4 linked regions of the Homo sapiens genome follow. The protein of the gene in region 1 purifies or fractionates together with the protein of each later gene. This does not show direct contact. Each region holds a gene or a part of one and is shown in the gene's direction. Other genes may lie near its edges. The genes, in order: GRAMD1B, FRMD5, TMEM131 and GRAMD2B.

Region 1 (7,025 bases):
CTCGGGAGGCCAAGGCGGGAGAATTGCTTGAACCCGGGAGGTGGAGGTTGCAGTGAGCCAAGATCGCGCCATTGCACTCCAGCCTGGGCAACAAGAGCGAAACTTCATCTTAAATGAATAAATAAATAAAGTAGTTTGTCATGGCTTGTCGGCTTTTCCCTCCAATGTAAAAGAAACTAAAAGAGACCTTCTTTTGATCTTGAGATTCTGCCATATATACTGAGGACAAAATATGGTAAAAAGAGCCGGGTGCAATGGCATGGCCTGTATTCCCAGCTACTTGGGTTGTGGTGTGAGGATCACATGAGCCCAAGAGTTCAAGGCTTTAGTAGGCTATAATGGTGCCTGTGAATAACCACTGCATTTCAGCCATGGTGAGACCCCCACCCCCAACGCTTAAAATGTTACGTGCGTGTGTGTGTGTGTGTGTGTGTGTGTGTGTGTGTCTTTGTGTGTATGAAGAAAAAAATCTTGCATTGCTGGCTAGGATGGGGATGACAGTAGATTTGGTTAGATTTAGGAAGGTATTCCTGGTTTCGAGAGTTGTCTATGTGTGTAGTGGAACCTTCATTTTGTTGGATTTGGGGACATATCCTTAAAATTTGGCAGGATTTTCATCTAGATGTAGTTCAGGCAGTTATTTTAAGTGGTGACTTTTGGATTAGAAGAACCTATGTATCAGCCGGGCGCAGTGGCTCACGCCTGTAATCCTAGCACTTTGGGAGGATGAGGCAGGCAGATTGCCTGAGCTCAGGAGTTAGCCACCAACTTGGGCAACACGGAGAAACACCGTCTCTACTAAAAATACAAAAATTAGCCAGGTGTGGTGGTGGACACCTGTAGTCCCAGCTACTCGGGAGGCTGAGGCAGGAGAATTGCTTGAACCTAGGAGGTGGAGGTTGCAGTGAGCCGAGATCTCGCCACTGCACTCCAGCCTGGGCAACAGAGTGAGACTCCGTTTCCAAAAAAAAAAAAAAAAAAAAAAAACCACCACCAACAAAAAACAAGAACATATGTATCTGAAAAGGCAGACTCTGGATTCAAATTCAAATTCGTGTGACTCACATCTACTCTTAGCTACTGTTATACTGCCTTCTGTTGGAATCTATTTGGATTGTGTGTAAAACAAAGCCCCATCATTTTTAGGCCTCGAAGATGAAAGGCTTCCTTCCAAGAAAAGCAGCAATCAAGTGAATAGGTGCTCGTAGATACCACCAAGTGGCCTGAGAAGGAATTGGTGGCGGGGTGTGGTAGCTCATGCCTGTAATCCCAGCACTTTGGGAGGCTGAGGAGGCAGATCATTTGAGGCCAGGAGTTCGAGACCAGCCTAGCCAACATGGCAAAACCCTGTTGCTACTAAAAATACAAAAATTAGCTGGACATGGTAGTGCGCGCCTGTAATCCCAGCTACTCAGGAGGCTGAGGCATGAGAATTGCTTGAACTTTGTGGGCAAAGGTTTCAGTGAGCTGAGATCACACCACTGCACTCCAGCCTGGGCGACAGAGCAAGACTCCATTTCCAAAAGAAAATAGAATTGGCATTTAGAGGCAATGGAGTGCAGGGAACATTGGACTTAATATCAGAAGACAGCTGTATATTTAAGTTCTATCATCGATTAGCTATGGAGATTAGCTTGAGCATTTCACTTTACCTCCATGAGTTTCACCTTCTTCATTTGTGGAAGAGGATCTCTGTGGGTTAATGGGAAGTCTGAAGAGTAGTGAATGTGAAAATGTTTTGCAAACTTCCTCTTGCTGTGCAAGGGTGAAGGCTTATTTCATTACTCTGTGAGTCTCTCACATGGAATGGATGTTTGCTTAAAAGTATGAGGTTACATACTCACGTGTCCTGGAGCAGCACCTGAGCCTCCTCACACAATTCAGGATTTGGAAATGATGGTTGGAAAATGGCTCTGCTCTGGCCTGGATTAGGGAGGATTAGCATACCAGGCCCAGCATGACGTCTCCACATTCCCCACCCCAAATCTCCTGCTCCAAAAGAGAGAAAAACACCTTTCAGGCTTGCTATGAAATTCAGCGTGATGTGGTAGAAGTTAAGTGGCTGAGAGGGCCATAGCTTGTGGATTTCTTTTAATTTTTGTTTTTTCATTATTTGTTTCATTATTTGTTTGTTTGTTTGTTTTTTTACTTGTCACTGACTTGAAGCTCAAGCTTGCGGATTTTCACTGCACAAAGTTGAAAATATGAAGAGGATTAGGAGACCCTTTTCTTCTCCTTAAACCCTAGGAAGGAAGAAGTGGAACAAATGGTAAAGACAGCATGGCTTACTAACTTTCCAGTGTTCACTGGAATACTCCAAGACCAATCATGTTCATCTTTGTATCGTCACAGCACTGTACCTGACCTCTTACAGTGATCTATAGATCTATAGATGTTTGTTGATGAGTTAATAATGAGTAAATAAATGATTCCTTTTTCTCTACTGTTTAAAGTGAAATTCTTTTATTCATGAGTGTGGGAAAATTTCCAAAAGGAGATGAGTACAGAGCTGAGTTTTTAAAAACAGCTTTATTGAGATATAATTTATATAATATACAATTCACCTATTTAAAGCATAATTCAGTGGTTTTTAATATATTCACAGCTATGTACAACCATCACCACAGTCAGTTTTTAAAAACGTTTGTTGCCCCACAAAGAAACTCATACTTTTTTTTTTTTTTTTTTTTTTTGAGACGGAGTCTCCCTCTCTCACCCAGGCTGGAGTGCAGTGGCTCAATCTCGGCTCACTGCAGCCTCTGCCTCCTGGGTTCAAGTGATTCTCCTGCCTAAGCCTCCTGAGTAGCTGGGATTACAGAAGCTCGCCACCACGCCCAGATAATTTTTGTATTTTTAGTAGAGACAGGGTTTCACCATGTTGGCCAGGTGGGTCTTGAACTCCTGACCTCATGATCTGCCCACCTCAGCCTCCCAAAGTGCTGGGATTACAGGCATGAACCACTGTGCCTGACTGAAACTCATACTTTTTGGCTAGCACCTTCACCCTCTCCATCCCATTTCCCCAGCCCTAGACAACCACTGATCTATAGAGAGCTGAGTTTTGAAGGGTTAACAAATGCCTATAGGTGAAAGCAGTTTGGATGTGTTGGCTTGAAGATAGAGATGGATGACCAAATGTGATCTTGTTGAGGAATGTGGAAAAATGAAGGTGGTGAGGCTGACAGACCGAAGGTGATTTATGCCAAAGAGTTTGAATTTCAATGAATCACTCAGTCATCAAACAGGTATTGAGATCCTATATGCAGAGCGCTTCCTAGGCAAAGTGAAGTCAATTCAATGAGGAGCTGTCGTAGATTCTGGAGCTTGGGAGAGACACTCTCAAAGTGTTGCTCGAGGCAACTACTTTCTGCTGTTCCGTGTAGTGGGGAGGAAGCGTGGGGAGGTGAAGGCCTGGAGTCTTGCTCTTTTCTTTCAGTGGTCTAACTGCAAAGCATCATCTTAACTACCATTGAACATAAGACGGCACAATTTTTTTTTATTATACTTTAAGTTTTAGGGTACATGTGCACAATGTGCAGGTTTGTTACATATGTATACATGTGCCATGTTGGTGTGCTGCACCCATTAACTCGTCATTTAACTTTAGGTGTGTCTCCTAATGCTATCCCTCCCCGCTCACCCTACCCCACAACAGGCCCTGGTGTGTGATGTTCCCCTTCCTGTGTCCATGTGTTCTCATTGTTCAATTCCCACCTATGAGTGAGAACATGCGGTGTTTGGTTTTTTGTCCTTGCGATAGTTTGCTGAGAATGATGGTTTCCAGCTTCATCCGTGTCCCTACAAAGGACATGAACTCATCCTTTTTTATGGCTGCATAGTATTCCATGGTGTATATGTGCCACATTTTCTTAATCCAGTCTATCAAGATGGCACAATTTTTTTGCTGGCCATGTTGCCCTCTGAGCTCAGGGAATAGCGTAGCCTGCAGTTGATGGGGCAGGCTCTTAGCATTAATACTCACATGTCTTTCTAACTTCCTTGCCCAAAACTGGTTGTGGTGATTGTTCAGAACCCAAACTGAGGATTGGAACCCTTCTCTGAATTGCTAGGTTCAGAAAACTCAGAAATTAGATGAAACCACATCTCCCAGGATGTCTTCTTGTCATCACTCTCTGGAGGGGGAAGGGAAAGCTGACGACGGGTGAGTGAGTTGGGTGGTGGCCAACTGCAGGCTCTTTCTAGGGGATGCAGAAGCACCTCTCTGCATCTCTGCCCAGTATACCTTCACTGTTACTATCTTTTGTACCATCTTTCACCTGGCTGTTATGTCCCTTCTTCTACATAACACACCTACCCCCGTCATGACTGCTCACAGTCTAGCAGGCTGGCGGCTAGAGAGTGGAGGGCCTCAGGGTTTCCACTTAGCTCCATGTCTGACCACTGGTAGTGCCGCTCACTAATTGTGCCCAGCATGCTAGGCTAGGTCATCTCTCTGGTGCCAGCCTAGCTGGCGTGTGGTTTGCCTGTAATGAATACACAGCATTGGTATATTTATCTTGATTCTTCATCTCCTTCCTCTGACCTTTGGAGGGAGACTTGTTTCGGGTTTCAGCTCCATTTCCAGGAGAGCAGGGTGATTTTGTGCATCTGAATGCTCTCCCCCTCAGCCCCCGTCACTATTGGTGTAGCTTCTCCGCTCTGTGTGTGCCCTGCTACATATGAGAAGCACAGGAAGTGTGGGAGAGAGAAAACTCATGTCCTTCTTAACACAAAGCAAAGAACAAATGCAAAGGAGACCTATGATTGGTCAGTGGATTAAGTAAGTGATCGGTGCTGGATAGGGTTAACTGGCAAAAACTTCCACCAGATTCATAATTCCTTGAGGGCAGGGACCGGTCTTACTTTGTGCCAAGTTTTCTGCCAAGCAGCCTTAAATACATTATCACATTAAATCCTCACAACAATGCCTCGGTCCCCCCAGGCAGGTTTTCCAGCTGAGGAACCTGAAGTTCAGAGATTAACATTCTCCTGGTCCAACAGAAGCAAGGCTGGGATTTGAAGCGTGTCCTAATTCCAAAGCCTGAGCTCATTACAGCTCCACTGCCCTATCCCCCCAGGGCCTGGAAGCAGTCAGCCCTCCCCTGCTTGAGAACTTGTAGATGTGGAGGGGGAGGTCCTGAAGCAAGGTAGGAATGTGGACAGTCGGGAGGCCATTGAGGAGATGTGTGTGAGGTTGTGGGAAGCAGAGAGGTGTGAGGATGACCCTGTTGACGGTCTAGGTGGACTCCTCCGTGAGAATCAGCTAGCGCCTGGCTGTAGATGTGGTTTCTAGATTAAAACAATCTGTGGAAACTGAGACGGTAGAGATGGAACCCTGTGGGCTGATTTCATACTGGCCAGCTTCCTCTGTGGGAGTTGGTATTTGGAAAATTTCCTTGGTGGTTATGCACTCAGAGGGTGCCAATTACACATCAGGTAAGGGGCTGGTATGAACATGGGGCAGATGCACAGGTGATCTTTCTGTCCTAGTTGGTGCATTTCTCCCAGGTATTATATAGCCTCCAATTGCTATGCTGGTCACTGATAATTGCTTCTAGGGTAACGCAGAAGTTAAGGAGTCTGAATGGCTAAGCTGCCAGTGGGGAATTTTCTTCCTGACCCCAGTGGGCAAACTGCTGGCCCTGAAGCAGGTGTTTAGACCTGGGGCCAAGGCTGGCCCGGAGAGCCTGGAGGTGGTTGCTGGGTTGCTGTGTGTACAAGAGCTTGATGAAACCTGAGGGTTTTTCCTGGGGCATTTGCCCCAATGGGATTCTTTCTTCCATAGCACATATCAGTGTGTGACTTGCCAAGGGGCTGTTGTGCCTGGTGTGAGGAGGGACATAGCTTCTTATTGTCTTGGGGGGTGGGAATCTATGAGCTCTTCTCCTGTGACTCTGGAGCCTGGAAGGAAGTGTCCTCTCAGAGGAGACTTGTTTCGGGTCTCTCAGGGACTCAGAACAGAAAGCTTCTCTCAGGGACTCAGAACAGAAAATCGAATGTGGGTTTTCCAGTGGGAGAAGGGAAGCAGGATGGTGATGCCTCAGCTGGTGAGGAGATGTTGGGCAGTAGCCAGCCACTCCCTGCCACCATAGGCAGCAACCTCCTAAACACACTCCTGTTTTCAAATATCCTCTTCTGTTATCAGACCACATGTCTGGATTTTCGATTCAGATATTGTCATATAGCTCGAAATCCTCACTAGGAAAATGTGGCTGTGCCTTTGGTCCCTTTGTGGAAGGGAGGGATAAAGAAAACCATGGGTTTTTCCTTTGAGGCCCTAACACATTGGGTAGTCAGAGGGTATGAAGCCCTTCTGTGTCCTCTGTATGTCCTCAAGCTGGGATGAGACTCCGGTTCTCCAATTCTGATCTGTAGATGAGATGGAGGAATGAGATGACCAGGCACGTCACGGAGGCAGTGCAGGGTCAGAGCTGAAACTCAGGCCTCTGACCTGAAATCTCGACCAGTTTCTAACAGACCTATTACATCTCTGCAGCAGCCTCATTCTTTTTAAGGTCTCTCCCTCTCAGCACATCACTGTGGTCAAGCCTGTTCCCCCACCCAGCCTGGTGCCTCTTCCCTCCACAATCTGACCACAGAGATTTTCAGTCTTGCTGCTTCTGGTTGGCAAGTTTATCCAGGAAATGATGGAGCTGAGGGAGATGACTAGAAAAACAATAAACAACCTATTTGGTTTTTGCCCTCCTTTTTGCAGCCATAGAAAAATAATTTTCTGGGGGAGGGGGAGCGCCCAGTTTGGGGATGGTAACCCTTGCAATATTTGCCTCAGCAATTAGGAAAATACAGAAAGGCAATGGATGGTTAGTTTAGTGACACATTTTTGAGACTCTCCAAGAGTCTTCAAGCTTGTTGTCTTAAAAGGAATCATTTTAAAAAATGTAGTGCATGTGCTGCTGAAGTGAGCACAAGAAATCATTTTTTATGCCATAAAAGTCAACGCGGCCAGATGCAGTGGCTCACGCCTGTAATCCTAGCACTTTGGGAGGCCAACGCAGGCAGATAAC
Region 2 (6,941 bases), on another chromosome or scaffold:
ACTTTGATGGGAAGGGCCTGTGTTTGTCATGTCTTGGTGAAGAGAGGGCAGTACTCCTTCCTGCCAAAATCTAAAGAAATGGTGAAGGTTGCATTGGCTAAAGAGAGAGACCAGTGTCCCAGAACAGCAGGGTATAGAATATCTGAAGCAGAGACACGAAATGCTTTGTTTAGTTTTTTCAGGCATACGTGGGGGATAGTACCTCCCCTGGGGACTCCCTCATAGTAGAGAAGGAAAAGAAATTCAAAAGACGGCTGATATTCTGATAATTTGGAAGGTGGGGGTTCAGAGCCATTATAATTTGGATTCTTATTTTTAAATGTGGCCTCCTTTATACTTAAAGACACATGAAAGCTATGGCACGCTGGTTCTCAAGGGCAAATAAGGCCTTTTATTAAATAAGCCCTTTCCATTCTGGGCATCCTAGTTAATAGATTTGAGGAAAACAAAGATAAACAAAATATTTCTGTTTGGTTTTACTTTTTATTTTATTTGGAGACAAGGTCTTGCTCTGTTGTCCAGGCTGGAGTGCAGTGATGCAGTCATAGCTCCTGGCTCAATTGATTCTTCTGCCCAGTCTCCCAAAATTCAGTTTGGTTTTATATGAGCCCTTCCTTTCTAGTTCTCCTTATGCTTCTTCTCATGAGCTTTTTTGTGGAGACATACATCTAGATTCTTGCTTTTCTTCCATTATTTTTTCATTCTCTGTATTCCTCACAAAGTGTTTTGTATCAGAGAAGAAGGGAGAGTTTGAAGTTCTCTCTGGATATTACACCTAAGCATGAATGAATATCTAACTGGTCTTTCGGTGAGGTGAGCATCTAAGCAGATGTGATTTTTTTTAATTCCTTTTTTTTTTTTTTTTTGAGACAGGATCTGGCTCTGTTGCCCAGGCTGGAGTGCAGTGGTGTGATCTTGGCTCACAGCAACCTTCCCCTCCCCCTAGGCTCAAGCAATCCTCCCACCTCAGCCTCCCCAGCAGCTGGGACTACAGGTGTGTGCCACCACACCCAGCTAATCTTTGTATTATTATTATTATTATTATTGTAGCTATGGGGTTTCACCATGTTGCCTAGGTGGGTCTTGAAATCCTGAGCTCAAGCGATCTGCCTGCCTTGGCTTCCCAAATGTTGGGATTATAGGCATGAGCCACTGCACCCAGCCTCAGACATGATTTTCTCAGACTGAGCAAGGATTCTACTTAACACATTGACATAGGAAATACAGTCTCACCTCTGTTGATTGCAACTATGGCCATACTTCGAAAAAAGACTGCATTCAGTTCCTTAGAGCTTTTCTGGATTCATAGTGCTTTGCCTTTTCATTCTAACAGCTGCTTATTTGGATAACCTGTTAAAAACACTTTCCTACCATCACACTTATGGACTTCCTCTAGCTTGGACATTTTTTCTTGCTCTTGTTGATTCTATAACAAACAGTAACTTTTGCCTTCAACAAAAGCTCTTTCAGTTTGAATTTTTTTTCCTTTCTTTCTTTTTTTTTTTTTTTTTTTTGAGATGGAGTCTCGCTGTCTCCCAGGCTGGAGTGCAGTGGCCAATCTCAGCTCACTGCAACCTTCGCCTCCCAGGTTCAAGCAAATCTCCTGCCTCAGCCTCCTGAGTAGCTGAGACTACAGACACATGCCACCATGCCCGGCTCATTTTTGTATTTTCAGTAGAGACAGGGTTTCACCATGATGGCCAGGCTGGTCTTGAACTCCTGACCTCGTGATCCACCCACCTCGGCCTCCTAAAGTACTGGGATTACAGGTGTGAGCCACTGCGCCCAGCCTGAAATATTTCATTATCTTCTTACAGCTACATAACAAAGCTGAGCTTTGTAGAATATCACTTTGGCATATTAATAATTTTACTTGTCTCCAAGATCTTCCTGAAATTTTGAGTTTCTTCACAGGTCTTCTTCCTCTGGGATTTAAGTGCTGTAGAACACCTGTCAATTCCATTTACTTCAGTTCATCAATTTTTTTTTTTTTAGACCGAGTCTTGCTCTGTTGCCCAGGCTGGAGTGCAGTGGCACAATCTCAGCTCACTGCAATCTCTACCTCCCGGGTTCCAGCGATTCTCCTGCCTCAGCCTCCCCAGTAGCTGGGACCACGGGCGCATGCCACCACACCCGGCTAATTTTTGTATTCAGTTCAACACTTATTGAATACCTATTATGTTTCAGGCATCAGACTACCTGCTGAAGCTACAAAGTAGTGGAGCGCATGCCTGGTTTTATGCCTGGAACACTTGACTTACTAGTTCTAGACTCATAACTAACTCCATCCAAATTGCATTGAAAAGAGAATCCTGCTCCTATGGCTATTAAATGCCACAAAGGAGAATGCAACCAATTAAGAGCAGTCCAGGTTACTAAGGTGATAGAAAGAAAAAGGGGGAGGGAGAGGGGGAGGAAGAGAGAGAGAGAGAGAGAGAGAAAGAGAGAGAGAGAGAGAGAATGAAAGAGAATGAATCTCCCCATGCAAAAAAAAAAAAAAAAATTGGGGAAAATATTGGAATCCAAAGACACTAGGGAAGAAGCATACTTTAAAGGCGGGATAGTTTTCTAGGCTAATGTAGAGTTTCATTTTTGTTACACATTATACCTATAAACAAGAACAGTGCAAATGAAAGTAATAGGAAATTATGCCTATTTCATTATTTTAAATTAATATATTTATTACAGCATTAATGTTCTATGTTGACACGATTATTTTTTTTTTTTGAGACGGTGGCTTGCTCTTGTCCCCCAGGCTGGAGTGCAATGGCCGTGATCTTGGTTCACTGCAACCTCTGCCTCCTGGGTTCAAGCGATTCTCCTGCCTCAGCCTCCCGAGTAGCTGGGATTACAGGTGCGTGCTACCATGCACGGCTAATTTTTTTGTATTTTTAGTAGAGACGGGGATTCACCATGTTGGTCAGGCTGGTTTCGAACTCCTGACATCAGGTGATCCGCCCGCCTCGGCCTCCCAAAGTGCTGGGATTACAGGCTTGAGCCACTGCGCCCGGCCGACATAATTATTTTATAACATTTCCTCACATCAAAAATCTTTGAGGGAGAATATCTCTTATTGAAGTTCTGGTAAAAAACCTTGAAGTCTGTAAATTTGGGGTGACAAAGAGAAGGAGACAATTCTTTGTGATGTATACCTCCTGACATACTATGTTGTTCTATTGAGAAAGTCTGAAGACATAATTTCCAGTTCTAAAAGTGCAAGGAGAAGATTCATTGCTTCCTCTGCTCCCTACCAGCTGAAGGAGCAGTCTCCTTTTGTCTTCTGAAATAAAAAGGAGGCAAAGGGTGTTAGAGTGGAGGGTTTTTTAGGGGATTAAACCTGGGTACTTCAGAACCTCTGAGGTCCCTTTAGCTTTTATTTAAGTAGCTCCTGTTTCCCAAAATAAGAGGGCTGGAGCACAGAGGCCAGACGGGCCAACTTAGGGTACAGCACAGGTCGGGGGCAGTCGCCCTATCTGGAGCGAGAGGTATCCGCATTCTGCAGGTGCAGGGACTGTGATCCAGCACCCTGCCGCCTCCTCGCTCCGGCTCCCAAGAGGGCGGGAACCGCGGTGTTGCAGGGTGCGAGGCTTGGCTTCGGAAACGCAGATCAAGTGTATTTCAGGCGGCAGACATCAATCCAGTTGGGTGCTCACACCTGGCCCGGGGGAGGGGAAACAGCATCCATAGGAACCACGGGGCGGAGAGGAACCCCTCGTTTGGGACGCTAGAGGGCTGCTCCGGCTTGACTAGGTCCGACTGCTTTTCTGTGATTGCTTCTTTATCCCGCCCATCATCCCAGTACTCTATCTCGATTGGCTTTTCGGTCTGCCACTCGGTTCCGCCGCGCTGACCCCCATTGGCCCCCTCCAGTTGAGGCCCCGCCCCGCGAGCTGGGCACGGGCACTGGGGCGCCGAGGAGACAGAGCCCGGCGCTTGATCTGGGCTGGGGGGAGGCGGTGGCGGCTGAGGGAAGGAGGAGGATAAGGAGGAGGAACGAGGCCAGCAGGAGGCAACGGCAGCGACGGGGCCGGGGTGATGGTGCAGGTGCCTGGGGTCGGTGCGGAGCTGCCGGGCTGAGGGACGCCTGGTCCAGGGTCCGCAGCGCCGCCGCGTCGCTCCCGGGCGGGCGGGCGGGAAGATGCTGAGCAGGTTGATGAGCGGCAGCAGCAGGAGCCTGGAGCGCGAGTACAGCTGCACCGTGCGGCTGCTGGACGACAGCGAGTACACCTGCACCATCCAGGTCAGCGCCGCGCCGCCCCGCCCCGCCCGCGGGACCCCCTTGTCCCCCAAGTCTGGTCAACTTGGCCGGCGGCGGCCGCCGCCCAGGGGTCGCCCCAGCCCCAGCGCCGTGCTTTGTCCGTTCCTGGTTGCGGCGGACCGCCCTAGTGCAGGGCGTCTTCACCGGAGCCCCTGCCGGAGCCCTGGCACCCGGTGTGTCACCGCCGCCGCGGGGCGAGTCTCCGCGTCCCACACCCCTAAGTCCTACCCTGCTCTCCCTGGGTGAGGGCGCCCCGTCCTGGTTCCTCGAGCCCGCCCGAGTAAGGTGCACCTTTCCGGGGCGCCCGGAGGGAGGCGGGTAGGGCGGTAGGCTCCTAGCCCGGCCGCCCCGTCGGGGGCGCAGGCTTTGGCTCTCTGCCCGGGCAAGGACGTATGGCTGGCTTTTCTTATCTTTCTTGGGTTGGAAGGATAATGGTTTATGTCATAATTCCTCCCCCCACCATTTGTGAGTCAGAGCTTTCAGAAGGTAGAACTGAACGCGCAGCCCATGCGGAGTGGCCTATTGAAGGAAGCCCAGTCCTCTGGGTTTTAGAGATTTAGGCCCCCTCCCGCCTTTTGATCCCCAAATTTTATTGTGTTGGGCGGTTCTAGGGGACGTGAGGTAAAGATTTAGCAACAAGTCCCAGCGATTTGGGGCTTGGAAGTGGCCAGGAAGAATCGGCGACTTAGGAAAAACGCCAACAATACGGTAATGCTCAACAGCATTTCTTTCAGAACCTGGTATTTTTGAAGGGATTTTTACAACCTCTTGCTCATGTTCCTTCGCTACTGCTGTGTGCACGTCAGGAGTAGTAGTCTTTCCCGGGAATGCAGTCACAGCCCTCTCTCCTCCCTTATGAAAAAGTCAGAGATTGAAAACATTGACAATGCTCCCGTGTTTAGTTCATCAGCCAGGAGGATCCTGCGCTCATCGCCGGAAGCTGCTCTTTGTGGAGAAGCTAATTGAGCTGGACCCAGAGGGGTCTCACCTGATCCTTTGCCTTTGCAGCAGGAAAACAGGAGGAGGCTTCTGGCTCAGATGTGACAGACAAAAACTGTCGGCCTGGGTCCTACCCTCAGTGTCTTCTTGCCCCCCGCCTCCTTATTTATTTATTTTTGCTGACAGTGCTCAATCGCGGAAAATAGCGGTGTGTGAGAAAGACACTGGGTAGTGTATGAGAGCAGCTGGTCTCTGCTGACTCCGTGCTCAGTTCAGCCTTCTCCTCACTTTCCCTTTTCTCCCTCCCCTCGAAACCAGCTCTGGGCATAAGTGCTGACTGCTGCCAAAGATCCATGAGGGTAGAGAAAGAGCACAAAATCTCTTTTTAAGGCTACTTAAATACAGACTAAGCAGTCATAAAGATGCTAGCCATCAAGTGAAAGGATTTTTGTAGTTGAATATGATAGAGAGATGCTCTGTATTATTTCCTTGCTGAATGAGTGGAATACTACTTTTTGTTCCTATTGTATCATTGTGCCATGTCCAGTTTTTTTTTGCTTTTTTTGTTTTGCTGGGGTATGAGAATACATTGAGTTGATATCTTCACCATTTGAGTATATTGTCTAGAGCTTTTTAAAAGTCTTTATCCTTTTGTTTTAAAATTTAAAGCATTTATCCAATAGCATATCAAGGGGAGTGTGAGATTTAGACTTTATAAGTCCTAAGAATACTTTTGGGGTATGTGAAATAATTTCCGAGGCAGGTCATTAACTTTTGCCAAGGTGTAGAATACAAATAAAACACAATTCACATCACCATTTCGCTAGAAATGATTGTTAACCTTGTGGTTTTAAAGTATTGCAGTGAGGCAAATAGTTATTTTTTTCCCAGTTAGTGGAACCTTTGAGGTTGCTTGATTGGTATTATAATTGTGGGTAGTTTTTATTACCATTTAGAAAAAAAATATTTTTGAGTTAAATAGGACTTATTGGATTTGTGCTTGCTATATCCCACTATAGCTGTACTTATTTTCCTACTGCTCTCATTTTACATTATTACAATTTAATTTTATAAAATATCTAGGCCACCTAAAAAATTAAGCTTGGTGTAATATGGCCACACTGTAGTAAGTGTCCACTGTCTAGACATGTTAATGATTGTGCATTGTGATTTTTGCATGGAATCTAAAGAACACAGGGATTGTTAAGTATATGTAATGTTGTCATTCTTTGGCATCACTTTGGCGAATTGCTTTTGTTTTTACCCATGTGAGGAAATGTAGCAAAAAGACAGTATCTTATATGAAATTAACATTTTCTGCATGTAGCTTTTTTGAACATTTAGAAATTGAGCTTTTCTTATCAGCTTTTCCCTTCATGCATTTCTGTAGTGAGTGTGTGTGTATATGTGCATGTGCTTATTTGTTAAATACTGGGCATAGGATCTTTTAAATCAGTATGGAAAGGATCTGTGAACTTCTTATTAGGTTAAGCAATATTCCCAACATTTTAGGCATTGTAGCACTGTATATTTTATGGTGATAATTTGAACTCATTTTCCTTAAAGTGTTGTATGCCATATTTTTGTTTAAATAAAGTATCTATTTTAGAATGATTTTACTGCCTTAGCATAATCAGAGACTACTTAGGATATTACAGAATCAGAAATGTATCACTGGGTTGGAGTCATGATAGTTCCATTTGGTAAATTTCAGTTATAAGAAATTCTGTCAAAGTATTTGTCT
Region 3 (7,570 bases), on another chromosome or scaffold:
AGCAGAGAACCAGGGAGAAGGGGGTGGGGAGAAAGCACTTCAGGTGGAGGGCTAGAGGATAGACCCTGGAGTAGAAGCATTCCTGATATGTTCCAGGAACAAAATGGTGGTCATTTCAGCTGAAACAGACCGAGCCTGGAGGAATCCAGGAGGAATGGAAAGACCGGGGCAAGCCAGATCAAGGAAGCTTTTACCCTGAGATGGGTATTCAAATATTCCCTGTTATTGCTTTTTTTAATATACAGTCTCTAAAAATTAAAATTTCACTTTCCCCAACTGCTTTTAAAAACATTAAGCAGGCCACTGCAGGATGTGAACATTGAGAGACGTGACATGTCTTATGTTTTAAATGGATCATGCTGGCTGTCAGGTTGACAATAGACTATAAAAGTACAAATTTATGTCAAAATATAAAGCAAAGCCCAACAAAACTCAAAAAAAAAAAAAAAATCAAAGATGAGTTTATATACTGCCAGGGGTGGATGTAAACACACCAGTGAAAAAGTTCACTGAGTAACTCATGAATTAGGAAAAGTCAGGGTTTTTTAAGTGTGAGAAAGAGAGAAGGGAGTTTGGAGGTTATGCGGATTAAGGGCTGGAAAGTAGTGCTCTGGATAGGTTGGAATAGTGTTGATAAAACATGTCCCTTTGTTAACTGGTCAGAAAGGAGTCTTTGGTTAGGTCTAACAAGGGTCTGGTATGGGGTCACTCAAAGTTCACAGTCCTTGATCTGCTTCAGTTGGTTAGAACCAGTTGTGGTAGAGCATAGCATTCCGTTTTGATATCTACTATGCAAGTGTTGTAAGTGGAAAATTTTCTTTTACAGGTGGAAACAGGGAAACCTGTTAGGAAGCTCTTGCAGAAATCCAGGCAGCGGATGACAGGGCTCATACCAGAGTGGAGTAGTGCAGGTGGTGAGAAGCAGTTAGATTTGGGTACATGTGGAGAGAGTAAAGAATGACTCCCAGGTTTTTGGCCTGTGCAACTGGATGGTTGGAGTTGCCCTGGAGATAGGAAAGGCTGTGGGTGAAGCATGTTTGCATGGGAAGATGTGGAGTTCATGTGAGTTTAAGACACCTCATTATACACCTGAGTGGGAACAGCAATAGAGACAGCGAGGTCTGGCTGGTGACATGAAGTGGGGACCTGAAAGTGTATAGATGGTGTTGAACGGCAGGATACCAGGTGCATTCACCTATGCAGCAAAGGAGATAGAACCCTGGAAAGCCCAACAGTTTACTCCCTCCTAGTTCCAGTTTTAATTCATAGAAGGCATTCTTGCACACCTCCTTAAGTATTTTGTGGAATGAAGTGGAGGTATCAATGGATCAAGGATCTTCGTGCCTAATGTGGTGTTTTGAAAAGAGTGAGTGCTCACTAATAGCTACTTTTGACAGTCTCCTATGTCCCAGACACTAGTCTATATGCTTCACAAACCTATATGCTTAATCTCCCCAAATTTATATCATAATCCCCATTTTTACAGATTAGGAATCTGAGGCCAGAAAAGTCATTTGCTCAGCATCATATAGCTAGTAAAGGCAGGGATGGGATTTAAGTTCAAATTTGTCTGAGTCTCTTATAATTCTGCCTTGAATGGTAAATTACTAACCTGCATAGAGAGCAAAATGAACAGAAAGTGAGGAGTCCCAACAGCTTGTAGCTCCTGGCATATATCACTGTGCAACAGTCTTCAATCTTGAGCCTGTATCAGAATCACTTGGATGCCTTGTTTAAACAGATTGTTGGACCTCAACCCAGAATTCCTGATTCCACAGGTCTGGGATTTGGCCTGCTAATTTGCACTTCTAACAGGTTCCCAGGTGTTGCTGCTACAGCTGGTCTGGGGATGACACCTTGAGAACCACTGGTTTAGCGAGTTTTCCCTGACTCTGCCAGCTAATACCTCCACCTGCCAAATGGCCAGGTCTCTCCAATTTCCAAAAGGGAAAAAGAGAAAAGTTCACAACTAATCAGAACTATTTGAGAGTCCTTAGTGTGATGGTTCCTTCAATTTTAACTCCTGGTTCTCTCCTGAGACACATGAGGGTTGGGGAGTGGGGGTAGAGGATCATAGGGTGATGGTGGCTCCACGCCAGGTTCTCTCTAACACACAGTTTACCATGCTGTCTAGCAAAACGTCTTTCACTGTTAGACTCTCAGTGGCCTCATTGTCCTTTCCTGGGAGGAAAGTTCCATCATCACCCCTCCTGCTCCTAGTGTCCCTCAGGCACAGGGGAGGGTTCAGGTATGGTGGGCCTTAAAAGCCTACCCAACTATTGGGAGGGCTCCTTTAAGAACAAGAATACAGGCTTATAAATACACAATTAGGTTCAGGGACTTGGAAGGAACTTGTGCAAGAGAGGGGGCCCTGCGGCTTAAGCTTCATTAGCTGCATGGGAAATCGAACTCTGATCAAACATGTCTGTATACGTCTAAAGATCCAATTACAGACAGGTGCAAGTTATTTCCCATGGAGCTGCTGAGCCTCAGGCTAACCAGGGGATGTGGCTGATTGCTGTGTAAGAGAACCTCAGCACTTCATGGTTGGAAAGGCTTGTTTGTCCTGAATCTGGCCATGGGGGAAGGGCTGCTGACTTGCAGAGCTAGCACGTTGGAGGCTAAGCAAAAGCGCTCAGTTACATATCCTTGGGTTTGATCTCTTCCGTGAGTCAAAAGCCTTCCAGAAATCTCTTGCCTCAGACATTTTAAACGCCAACTTAAGAGATAATTATTCCTATTTCATTACATCAAAATAAAATTTGACTACTCAATTTTAAGGCTAATATTCAAAAAAGTAAAATTGCTTATGATTAATTTTTTGAGACGGAGTTTTGCTCTTGTCGAGGGTATAGTGCAGTGGCGCTATCTTGGCTCACTGCAACCTCCACCTGCCGGGTTCAAGCGTTTTTCCTGCCTCCGGAGTAGCTGGGATTACAGGCATGCACTACCACGCCCGGCTAATTTTTATATTTTTTAGTAGAGACGGGTTTTCACCATGTTGGCCAGGCTGGTCTCGAACTCCTGACCTCAGGTGATCCGCCCACCTTGGCCTACCAAAGTGCTGGGATTACAGGCGTGAGCCACTGCGCCCTGCCCTAAAATTGCTTTTTAAAATCATTAGGCTAAGGTCATATTTAAATATATATTAATTTATGAATAAATTTAAGTGCTTGCTTGACACAGGGGACTACTTCATAGAGTAGATTCTGGAGTTCCTTTTGTCTTTCTGAAACCTTATTTTCCTATCTAGCTTGTTCTGAGACGTACTGTGGGCAGACTTGGCCTTACACATATATCGACTCACTCAACAAATACAGCTAAGGAAAGTAAAATGTCTCTGGGCTACAAGCTGGGAGGAAGTTACTAAGATGAGTAAAGAAGGACCCCCTCCAAGAGCTTAAATTAAGTCTTGGAGACAACAGCCATGCGCACCAAGAAGCTCAACCTAAGATGAAAAGGGCATCTAAGAGGCGCGAGATGGCTCGTGAAGGTAACAGACGTCTTAAGAATTTTTCCGGGCCCAGCACAGTGGCTCACGCCTGTGATCCCAGCACTCTGGAAGGCCGAGGAAGGCGGACTGCTTGAGCCCAGGAGTTCGAGACCTGCTCGGCCAACATAGTGAGACAGCGTTTCTTAAAAGAAAAAGAAAAATTGGCGTGGCGTGGTGGCGGGTGCCTGTAGTCCCAGACCGCACCACTGCACTCCAGCCTGGGCGGCAGAACCAGACCCTGTCTCAAAAATAAATAAATAATTAAAAAATAAAGAAAAGAAAAAAAAGAATTCTTCCTCGAGAGAGGAAGCCGGCTACTGGATATTCTAAAGAGCAGTCTGTTTGCCCCTGCCTTCTCCATCCAGAGTCACCGACGCTTTCTGCACACGAGGTGTTCCGCGCCAATGTGGGCACAAGCCAAGGCAAGAGGACTCCATCAAGCTCCTCCTGGGTACCATGATTTGGAAGACCCAAGGATGAGTTCAGCGGGCCACCATCCTCAAGGAAGCACCATCAAGAACTGAGTCAGGCCCGGGGTATTCTCGACGTCAAAGCGGTCGAGAGGTGGGGGTGCCACCAGGAAGAGTCACTGGAACGGACCTTCCGCGCTCGTCTCGCGGTCTGTATGCGCACTCACACCCCTGGAAGGCTCTACCACTGTAGGACAGAGCACGGAGGATTGCCCAGGCGCCGGAGAAGAGGTTAGCGCCCCGCAACTCCGCCCCTGCCCCGCCCACGCAACGCGGCGGCTGCGCGGCGAGGCCGCCCCGTCTCCACGTGATTGCCGACACCGCCTCCGCGAAGCAGAAGCCGCCATCATAAGTCCTGGCAGCTGGACCTGGGCCTGCCTCCCTCCTTCTCCTGCGCCAGGTAGCGGTAACGGGCTGGGGTTGTTCTGTCCTGGTTCTGTCTGGCCGTGAAGCCGCAGGCCTCCGAGAGCGGGACGAGGAGGTGGGGCCCAGGGGGCTCCGGGGCGGACAGACTGACCGCCGGACAGCCCAGGTGTCGGCACAGCGTGGGCGGTGCCCAGAGCCGCGCCCCGCCCCTCGCAGGCCAGCGCTCAGGGCTCGCGGGCCGTGCCCGTTTCCAGTATGGCCGCCCGCCGCGCCTGACCCGCGGCCTCTCCGCTCCGACTGCTTGTAGGCGATGCCCAGGCAAAGACCGTGACTGACACTCTCGCTCACACGCACGCACGGACCCAGGCCCACGCTCGGAGATCGAGCCCCGGGCTCGCAACCGTTGTCGCTCCCGGCGCCGCGGCCAGAGCCCGGACCACGGCTTCCGCGCCGCCGCCGCCTCGCCGAGAAGGGCCGCGCCGGACCTCGAGCGCGGCGGCCCCCGGCCGGCAGGGATGGGGAAGCGGGCGGGAGGAGGAGCAACCGGAGCCACCACCGCCGCCGTCTCCACGTCCGCCGGGGCCGGGCTGGAACCTGCGGCCGCCCGTAGCGGGGGCCCGCGGAGCGCGGCCGCCGGCCTCCTAGGCGCGCTGCACCTGGTGATGACCCTCGTAGTGGCTGCGGCGCGGGCCGAGAAGGAAGGTGGGTGTCCCCCGGCGGCGTCCCTGCGGCGGGGCTGTCACCCCGCTCTCGCGGAGGCCGGGAGGGCTGGGCCGGGAGGAAGGGCCGCGGCCGGGGCTCCGGCGCAAAGTTGGGCGGTCGGGTACCGTCCCGAGCCGGGACCTCGCGGCGCCCGCCGCACGGAGTGGCCTTCGCTCTCCGTGATTCCTTCCCGTGCCTTCCCCCGTCTCCTGTCACTGCCATTTCAAAACTTCCTGACTTCTCGTACGTTCTTGCCACTTGGCCCGCTAGGTAGGAGGGGCATATTTTTTGGCTTTATTGCGGCGAATAGGTACATTTTAGGACACTTCTGTTTTCTTGGTTGCGGTTGGTTGCATGCAGACAGAGCTTACTTTAAAATGTGGTAAAAATAGCGAGACACAGCTTAAAAAATTTCACTTTGAATTTGTTCAGACATTTCTTCGAGGGGAAATCTTGGTCCTGTAGCTTCCTCCTTTAGTGTCTCTGCGTTATTGATAACTTTATTATTAGACCTAAATACAATTCCATTTAACTCTTTAGTAAGCTGTTGAAAGCCTGTTTACATTTCTTATTTTAAAATACGTGATTCGGTGCCTTTATCTTTGATGTGAAAGCCTTTAAAAATAAACGTGAAGTTGCCAGCTTGCAAGCATTTATCTATAATTTACAGTTAAGGGCTGGCCCCTATTTTAAAAATCTCATTAGTATTGTACTGCTGCAAAACGGGTACTTGGACAGGGTCAAAAATTATTTTGTAATCTTGAAGACCAAATCAGTGTAATTTCATCTACACTACCTCTTTTTGAGCCAAGGGACATGTGAATGGTCACAGAGCCTTCATGAAGAATTGACTAAGTGAATAGTTTAAAAAAAAAACAAACCACGCAAAACTTGTTAGTTTAGCATTGCACATGAAACTGCCTGTACAAGAAAACAATTTCTTGCCACGGTAATTTTAGAGTTAACATTCTACTTTATGACTAAAGTCACTTGCTTTTTATTGTTGCTGAAGGTGAAAGCAAATACAAACCAAATTAGTATTAAAGTGCAAATGTGCTTCAGTATACTGTTTCTTTTATTTTTGTCCACATTACATTCCCTTATCTAACTCTCTAAGCAACCTTAGTCTGAGTTAACATTGGTGGAAATTATTCAAAGAATTGTCGTCTATAGAAAGGATTAATTGATGGAAGCAAAATTATTTCCAGAATAAAATATTGCCGCTTTAGGACTAGTCGGTCCTGGGGTTGTCATAATACATCATTGGCCACAGATCTGCAGTTAGTTGAGTGTTCTTTCTTATGTGTGATCGTGGCACCTAGCATTTTGGCCTGTAGTGGGTGTTCAGTGAACCCAAAATAGTGCAGTAATTTAATGGACATTTTTTGGGTGGGACTTCAAGTAGACCTTGGTGGGTATTGTGTCCTTGTTTTTCTGTTCCTTTGCTTACCTTGCACAGTGCCAGACACACTGGCGCTTAGCCTTTGAGTGAATGACTGTCTTCATGCGCCCTTAGCACAGGGAATTGAAATAATGGTTGAATCTAGTAAAGCATTAAGTTTGTATTTTCCTTCTACTGCTGCTGATTTTTCCAACAGCCATTTTATATGCTAATAAAAACTTTACTCTGGGTAAAGTTAAGTAAACAAACCTTTTGTTTGAGAACTGTCAGCCTAAAATATATTTGCTAATTTCTCATTTGCATAGTTTATACATGTTAGTGCACCTCTCTAATACCCATAAATGTGTGTAAGGATTGGATGAGGAGAATACTTGCCAGGGTGTTAAGTATGTATTAAAGGGGTGGTTGAATCAGCCAGTGGCCTGGGTGAATCAGATATCCTTTGTGGCCCATGCTTTTCTGTATGAACAATTTGTGTGTGCGGTTATCCAAGATATTAATGGAGATGATGCTGATATAGAACATAGGCCTCTACCCATCATAAACAGATCTGGTTCTAATCAAATATTCTGTGAAGGTATCTCCAGAAATGGCTTCTCCTTTAAAACTGATCATATTCCAGTATTGTTTCTGAGTAAGTAGGGGAAAAGCAATTTATTTTCTTACGTGATTGTGACACTGTGAGTCTGGCATCTGATGAGGCACAAATACAGTATTTGTCCTAAAAGGTACTGTTGAGTTTTTCAGCAAGTTTGGGCAGATTTCTGAAGATGGCTGAGTTCAGTTTGATCATTCACACCCGGAGGAATTTTGTGTCTATTGAAGTAGCATAAACTAGTTTAAAATTTCAAAGTTAAGATTTACCTGCAGTTTTAATGATGATTCTGCAGGTATTTTGTATGTTTGTATTTCTTTTCCTTCATTACTGTATAATTTCACTGCAAAATCTTTAAAAGACAATAAAACTCATTGTCTCCTGAAGAAAAGCTGCAGAAATAAATTACCTAATGTAGTTTTTCATGTTTGGACTTGATGTTGATTTTCTTGAGTCAGAAGCATGGACCATTCCTTGTCTTAACATCCTATATGACTTAACTGAGCTATGGGAGTGTGCTATCACTAGTCCAGAGGAAAGGT
Region 4 (7,136 bases), on another chromosome or scaffold:
CAAGCACCATCTTCACATGGTGAAGCGAGAGAGAGGTGAGAGAGAGAGAGAGAGCGAGAGAGAGCGAAAAGGGGGAGGTGCTACACACTTTCAAACAACCAGATCTCATGAGAACTCTATCACAAGACAGCACTAGGAGGGTGGTGCTACACCATTAGAAACCACCACTATGATCCAATCACTTCCCACCTCCAACACTCGGGATCCCAATTCAACATGAGATTTGGGTGGGGACACAGAGCCAAACCATATCACCTTGCAACCAAATCTCCACTCAAGTCTCCAAACACATTATTTGTACTCTGCCCCCAAGAGTATGAACAGATGCACAGTGTATGTGCTCAATGTTAAGGAAGGCCAATATCTGACCAATATCAAACATCAAAGCTGTTTGCATAGAAGCTCCCACCCACCAAAGGTGTTATGTCTGGCATCTTCTACCAAAGTGGTTTTAAAAACTAGAAAAAGTATCAGCTAGAAATCTTCTTTGCTTTTGCCAGGCATGGTGGCTCACGCCTGTAATCCCAGCACTTTGGGAGGCCAAGGTGGGCAGATCACCAGGTCAGGAGTTCGAGACCAGCCTGGCCAATATGGTGAAACCCCGTCTCCACTAAAAATACAAAAATTAGCTGGGCGTGGTGGTGTGTGCCTGTAGTCCCAGCTACTCGAGAGGCTGAGGCAGGAGAATTGCTTGAACCCAGGAGGCAGAGGTTGCAGTGAGCTGAGATCGTGCCACTGCACTCCAGCCTGGGCAACAGAGCGAGACTCTTTCTCAAAAAAAAAAAAAAAAAAAGAAAGAAAGAAAAGAAAAGAAATCTTCTTTGCTTTTAAAAACAAGAATTTGGATTCCCAGAGACTTAGAGGAAGAAAAATAATGTCTCTTATTGGTACAATATCAAAGGGCATCCTAAAACATATTTTAGGCATAATCTTTTTATCTTGTCTCCTCTCACATATCATAGGCATAATCTTACATCTCTATTTTGTCACATGGCAATGACATTTCCTTTATTGTTTATCTGCCGTGCCTCTTGAATACTATATTCCATATATTACTGTAGAATAGCCCCAAGAATAAACAAATTAGGCAGTTGTTTAACAATGCCTTTTAAACGTAAGCAAACATCAGTAGGTAAAATATTGTAGCTTACTTGCTCCTTTCTAATTCTTCCACTCTAGGAAAAGACTGATATTTTCCCTACCAGCCCTGCCTTCCACTTCAACCTCACCTGCTCCTTCTCACTTAAAACCACACCATTGGAAGTCCTTATACCATGCACTAAAGAACTTTAAGCTATTTTAGGGTAACTGAGTGCTCTTTATTTGAGCCATAAGCCCATGCTAAGACTGCTTTGAATACTTGCCCTTACTCATGCATTAAAAGAGGGCTGACCATGATTTCTCAAAAGGGTAAACATAGACTACCATATGACCCAGCAAGTCTACTCCTAGGTATATATCCAAAAGAAATGAAATCAGGGACTCAGACAAACATTTGCACACCCATGTTCATAGCAGCATCATTCACAATAGACAAAAGCTAGAAACAACCCAAGGGTCCATCAACAGATAAACGGGCAACCCAAATGTGGTATATACATGCAATGGAATATCATCCAGCCAAAAAAAAATGAAATTTGGATATATGCTATGACATGGATTGACCTTGAAAACATTACACTGAGTGAAACAAGCCAGACACAAAAGGAAAAATATTGTATGATTCCACTAATGTGAGGTACCTAAAACAGACAAATTTATAGAGACAGAAAGTAAACTAGAGGCTACCAGAGGCTGGGAGGAGGTGAGAAAGAAAGAGTTATTGTTTAATGTATTTAATGGGAGTTTATGCCAAGGATGATAAAAAAAAGTTTTGGGTACAGATAAGTGGTGATAGTTAAATAACATTGTGAAAGTGTTGAATGCCACTGAATTATACACTTATTAAAATGATAAATAGTAATGTTATGTATATTTTACCACAATAAATAAATTACTTAGCGGGGAAAAGTCAGTCTGATCTGAGCTCTGTAATGAGAAGTTGGAGTGCACCTGAGATCTGAGAGTCCTCATCCAGAGTTTGGGAAATTGACAACCTCATCTCTGTTCCAAACCTATCCCTATTCTGAGGAGGGTGGGGATCTAGAGGTGAAGGCATCAGGAATGTCCCCAGGAAGAGGCAACTATGGGCACCAAGGAGACAGCCTTCAAGCTTTCAGGTCACCCAGAGTTTTCCCCATCCCACCTAGCACAGCTCCTATAGCAAAGCAGTCAGTGGTCAGGAAAGAAAAAGAGAGAGAGGCCTGACTAAGCCAACTCTTCTGGAATTTATGTAAGCTTTTTCTTTTACTTATTTTTCAAATGTCACAAACATCAATTTTGGAGCAAGCAGGCTACAAAAAGATGCTTTTGTTCTCTCAGCCTAATGATATATATGTAAAAAGAGAAGGAATAAGAAAACTTTGGAAAGAACTTGCACCTCCAAAATGTTTGAAGTTATTTAGAAGGTTAGGTGTTTTACACACACATACACCCTACAAACTACATACATACATGTACATACTATGGTTGTATAGTCTTTGTAATACTCTTAAATCTAAACTTTATTTTAAGAGAAAAATGAAGGACTTGCAGCCCCAGAACATAGTTAGTCGTTTTTTCCCAGGCATGTCATGCTCTACTGTTGCCACTTGTAATTGTTTTGAAGTCAAGTCAGGCTTCCAATAATAACGTTTATATTAATTATTCTAATTGTCAACTACTCCATTGCAAATTAGAAAACCACCAATACAAATGTCATTTGCTATAACAAGTCAATGTTTATACAAGCTTGCCCAACCTGCAGCCCAGAACAGCTGTGAATATAGCCCAATACAAATTCATAAACTGTCTTATAACATGGTGACATTTATGCACGGATTTTTTTTTTTTTTTTGAGACAGGGTCTCACTCTGTTGCCCAGACTGGAGTGCAGTGGTGCATCTTGGCCCACCACAACCTCCATCTCCCAGGCTCAAGTGATTCTCCTGCCTCAGCCTCCCAAATAGCTGGGATTACAAGCGCCTGCGCCACCTCACCCAGCTAATTTTTGTATTTTTAGTAGAGATGGGGTTTCACTAGGTTGGCCATGCTAGTCTCGAACTCCTGACCTCAAATGATCCACCCGCCTCGGCCTCCCAAACTGCTGGGATTACAGGCGTAAGCCACCGTGCCTGGCCCCTGCACAGACCTTTTTTAAAGCTCATCATCTATCCTTAGTGTTAGTATATTTTATGTGTGGCCCAAGACAGTTCGTCTTCTTCCAATGTGACCCAGGGAAGCCAAAAGATTGGACACCCCTGATTGAGAACAATGCCTGGAACTTTGTAGCTCTCAAAAGTTTGTTCAATGAATGAATGAGTGAATGCTTCCAATACAAAACCTTAGAACAGGCAAGTCAAAATGTCACCAAAAGGTGGGAAGAAGAGGCATTCACGGTACTGGTTGAGTGCATAGTAAATAAGGTACTTGCACAACTATGGGCAACAAAGAGACGGCTTGGGAATTATCAAACACCAATTTTGATTTTGATGAGAACAGTCATAACCCAATATTTGAAGATTTTGATGGTTGCTTCTTCTTTGCCCCTCTAACCACCCCCCCCACCCCAGAACGATGAAGGGTTAACCAAAACACCACCAAAGGCAACTACTTATTACCTTTGTTATTCCCACATAAAAAATTGAGCAGACCTATTGTTTAAGCAGAAGAGGCAGTCCCTCAATGAAGCAATATCCTGTTTGAATAATTTAGGATGGGGCATAGGCCAGCCCACACAGCGCATTTGTGTGACAGGGCGTCCCACTCAGACGTCTCCATTTCCGGTATCTAGAGCCGGCTGCCCTCTAAAAATCCCCCTGTTACAGTCGGGATAGAAAACAAAAAGCTTAATTTACCAGGAGGCTAAACAGATTGTGCCTTCTTAGGCAAATGTTCCACCTGCTTGGCCAATTAGCTTCCTCTCCCGAAAGACTCGTTCAACAGGTTTCCTTTTTCTCTTCTCTGCCTCCTGGGTTGGGGAAAGAGGCTGTCACTTCGCTTCGACCCTCCCCTTCCCTCCCTCTCGGCTTTTCCACAGTGGGTCGGACCAATCGCGCCCGCTCCGACGTGTCCAGGTCCGCGGCCCCGGGAGCTTGGCGCGGCCCGGCCTGGATGCGCTGGGCGGAGGGTGCAGGGGAGGGCACGGCGCCGCTTGCTTGGCCTGCGCACCCGGACCTAGAAGCCGGGACGAGCCGGGGCAGAGCCAGGCGCGCGGAAGTCTGAAGGTGCCCTCCAGACACGGCCCCGATGACTGAACTACAGCAAGATGTGGAAGACACAAAGCCTGCGAAAGTGCTCGGGAAGAGGGAGAGCAAACTTGGCTCAGCCCAGTGAGTATTCTCAGCTGGGACCCATCCAAGGAGGTGGGAGGAGCGCAGCCTAAACTTCTCTGCCCCGGGACGCATTTTGGGTGGATGCGGATTTCTGGAGCTCCTATATGGACAATCTTGTGGCGCGCTCTCTCTGTCTCTCACTCTCTCTCTCTGTCTAGATATTCAGTTAAGGAGATGGTTTAGATTGATTGAAAAGTCTACTGTAGGATTTAAACAAATTCTCTTAATTCAAAACTCACTGGATGTTGGGAAAATAATTTTGTAGAAAATAAGCCTAACCACATTGAAGCTCAAAGTCCCAACACAGCCCTTCGTTTAGAATGACCATTTTCACAAATTCATTTTAGTTCAGCAAATAATTGAGTATCTACTTGTTCAATAACGATGGGCAATACAAGGATAAATGTTATTTTGGATCTGCCCTTCTGGAACTTCAAGAGCAGAGTGGGGATGGGGGAGGCACAAATGAATATTACTGTACTTCAAGGGACTTTGGTGACCATTGCCACATTAAACACACAGACAAGGTATGATAAAGAGTTTAGCCTATAATTGAGTCTTCTCTACTTTTAAAATATTTATCTATTTTGCAGTCTTTGGTAAAATTGGTTTGGGAGGAGAGGTTGTTTTTTTCCTACAAAGTGGTATTTTCTAAGCCTACTGAAGTCACTTCTAATTCAGTCTATGATTTTAGACACTAACCCTTCTGAGCTCTAAAACTCTTGTTCTGGTATCAGGATATGAGTAATTTAGGAAGGAGGGATATGTATTATCATAAGGTTATACTGATGTGATAATTCCACTTTGAAATCATTTTAAGTTGCCAAATTTTTGTGCTTAGAAACCCGGTCTAACTTCTGTTTTGAACTTCATAACTTACATTAATTATCACTAGGCTCAAAGTCTTGTTGAAGTCTGGGTGTCCCCATGGACATTTCTTCTAAGAGGATTAGAATGACTTGCTCCTCACAATTTCCCTGCGTCTGTAACTGCACCCATGTAGACCTCATCACCTAGAGCCTTAGCCTCCTAAATAATAGTAGCTGGCACTTACTGAGAATGCTTACTATGTGACAGGGAGTGTGCTCAATACTTTAAATGCATTCTCACAAAGAATGAGGCAGGTGCTATTATTTCCATGTTGCAGATAAAAGCACTGAAGCTCTGAGAAGCTAAGCAGCTAGGCAGAGTCACAAAGTTAATAAAAGAGCAGCCAGGATTCAAGCCCAGGTCTCCTAACTTTACAGCATGAACTTAGAACCACTATGCTGTACACTGGTTCCTCTGTTCCAGAATCTATGATGGCCTTCCATGGCCTACTCTTAAAAATAGGCTTCTCTGCCAAGATTTTAAGATCCTTCATGATCTGGACCCACACAGACCATTGCAACCTCACTTCCTAATACTAGTCAGCATGCACATCTTTTATAGCCAAACAATCATACTAGCAGCCCTATACTTAAAGGAGTGATATGCAGCACTCCCATGTTCATTGCACATTACTCACAATAGCCAAGATATGAAATCAACCTAAGTGTCCATCAACAGATGAATGGATAAGAAAATGTGCTATATACACAAGATACGAAATCAATCTAAGTGTCTATCAATGGATAAAGGGATAAGAAAATGTGGTATATATACACAATATTATTCAGCCTTTAAAAAGAAAGATCATTTGTGACATGGATGAACCTAGAGGACGTATGTTAGACAAAATAAGCCAGGAATAGAAAAACAAACACTGCATGTTCTCACTTAAGTGTGACATCTGAAAAAGTTGACTCAGGCCAGGCAGGGACTGTGGCTCATGCCCATAATCCCAACACTTTGGGAGGCCGAGGCTGGAGGATCACTTGAGCCCAGGAATTTAAAACCAGCCTGGGCAACAAAGTGAGACCCTGTCTCTACAGACAAAAAAAAATAAGTTAAGCATGATGGCGCACACCTGTGGTCCCAGCTGCTCGGGAGGCTGAGGTGGGAGAATCTCTTGAGCCCAGGCAGTTGAGGCTACAGTGAGCCATGTTCATGCCACTACATTCCAGCCTGGACACAGAGTGAGACCCTGTCTCAAAACTAAAATTTAATTTAATTTAAAAATAAATTTAGAAGTTGGATTCATAGAAATAGAGAGTAGAATGGTGGTTTCCAGGCGCTGGAAGGTAGAAAGGGTGGGGAAGGAGGGAATAGGGAGTTGATCAGAGGGTACGAAGTTTCAGTTAGGAGGAATAAGTTTTGAGTTCTATTGCACAGCAAGGAGATTAGTGAATAATAATATGTTGTATATTTCAATATAACTAAGAGTAAATTTCAAATGTCTCACCATAAAAAATGATAGGTAAGCAAGACCATAGGTATGTTGCTTGATTTAATCATGCCACATTGTATACATATACCAAAACATTACCCTGTACCCCATAAATGTAAACAATTATGATTTGTCAATTAAAAATAATATTAATTTTAAAATAATTTAAAAATATATTTCTTATAAAATTCAAAAAAAGAAGTGATATGCAGAAGGAATAAGGAACTGGTATGCCAAACATAGGAGCAAATGAATCCCCTTCTGTCTTCACTTTTCCTTACTGCTATTCCTTTCCCCTCTCTCCTCTCTCTTCATCTACTTCTAGAAATCAACTCAAGTTTTCCTTCATGTGAAGCCTTCCTTCATTACTGGCCATACTCATCTCTTCTTTACCAGTGCTCACCTTGTACATATGT

The links.
Region 2: the proteins of GRAMD1B (region 1) and FRMD5 purify together in Homo sapiens (co-immunoprecipitation; 2 studies listed by BioGRID and IntAct, with this or other methods). This does not show direct contact.
Region 3: the proteins of GRAMD1B (region 1) and TMEM131 purify together in Homo sapiens (affinity purification with mass spectrometry; 2 studies listed by BioGRID and IntAct, with this or other methods). This does not show direct contact.
Region 4: the proteins of GRAMD1B (region 1) and GRAMD2B purify together in Homo sapiens (affinity purification with mass spectrometry; 3 studies listed by BioGRID and IntAct, with this or other methods). This does not show direct contact.

What each region holds. Positions count from the first base shown.
Region 1 is NC_000011.10:123,433,268-123,440,292, forward strand, and holds part of GRAMD1B (protein Aster-B), read left to right. Parts: intron 1-2,166; coding exon of another isoform or gene 2,167-2,200; exon of another isoform or gene 2,201-2,448; intron 2,449-7,025. UniProt on the Homo sapiens protein: Cholesterol transporter that mediates non-vesicular transport of cholesterol from the plasma membrane (PM) to the endoplasmic reticulum (ER).
Region 2 is NC_000015.10:44,192,252-44,199,192, reverse strand, and holds the start of FRMD5 (FERM domain-containing protein 5), read left to right. Parts: upstream 1-3,921; 5' UTR 3,922-4,138; coding exon 4,139-4,240; intron 4,241-4,746; exon of another isoform or gene 4,747-4,966; intron 4,967-6,941. UniProt on the Homo sapiens protein: May be involved in regulation of cell migration. May regulate cell-matrix interactions via its interaction with ITGB5 and modifying ITGB5 cytoplasmic tail interactions such as with FERMT2 and TLN1.
Region 3 is NC_000002.12:97,992,937-98,000,506, reverse strand, and holds the start of TMEM131 (transmembrane protein 131 precursor), read left to right. Parts: upstream 1-4,558; 5' UTR 4,559-4,844; coding exon 4,845-5,031; coding exon of another isoform or gene 5,032-5,301; intron 5,302-7,570.
Region 4 is NC_000005.10:126,419,281-126,426,416, forward strand, and holds the start of GRAMD2B (GRAM domain-containing protein 2B), read left to right. Parts: upstream 1-4,128; 5' UTR 4,129-4,326; coding exon 4,327-4,409; intron 4,410-7,136.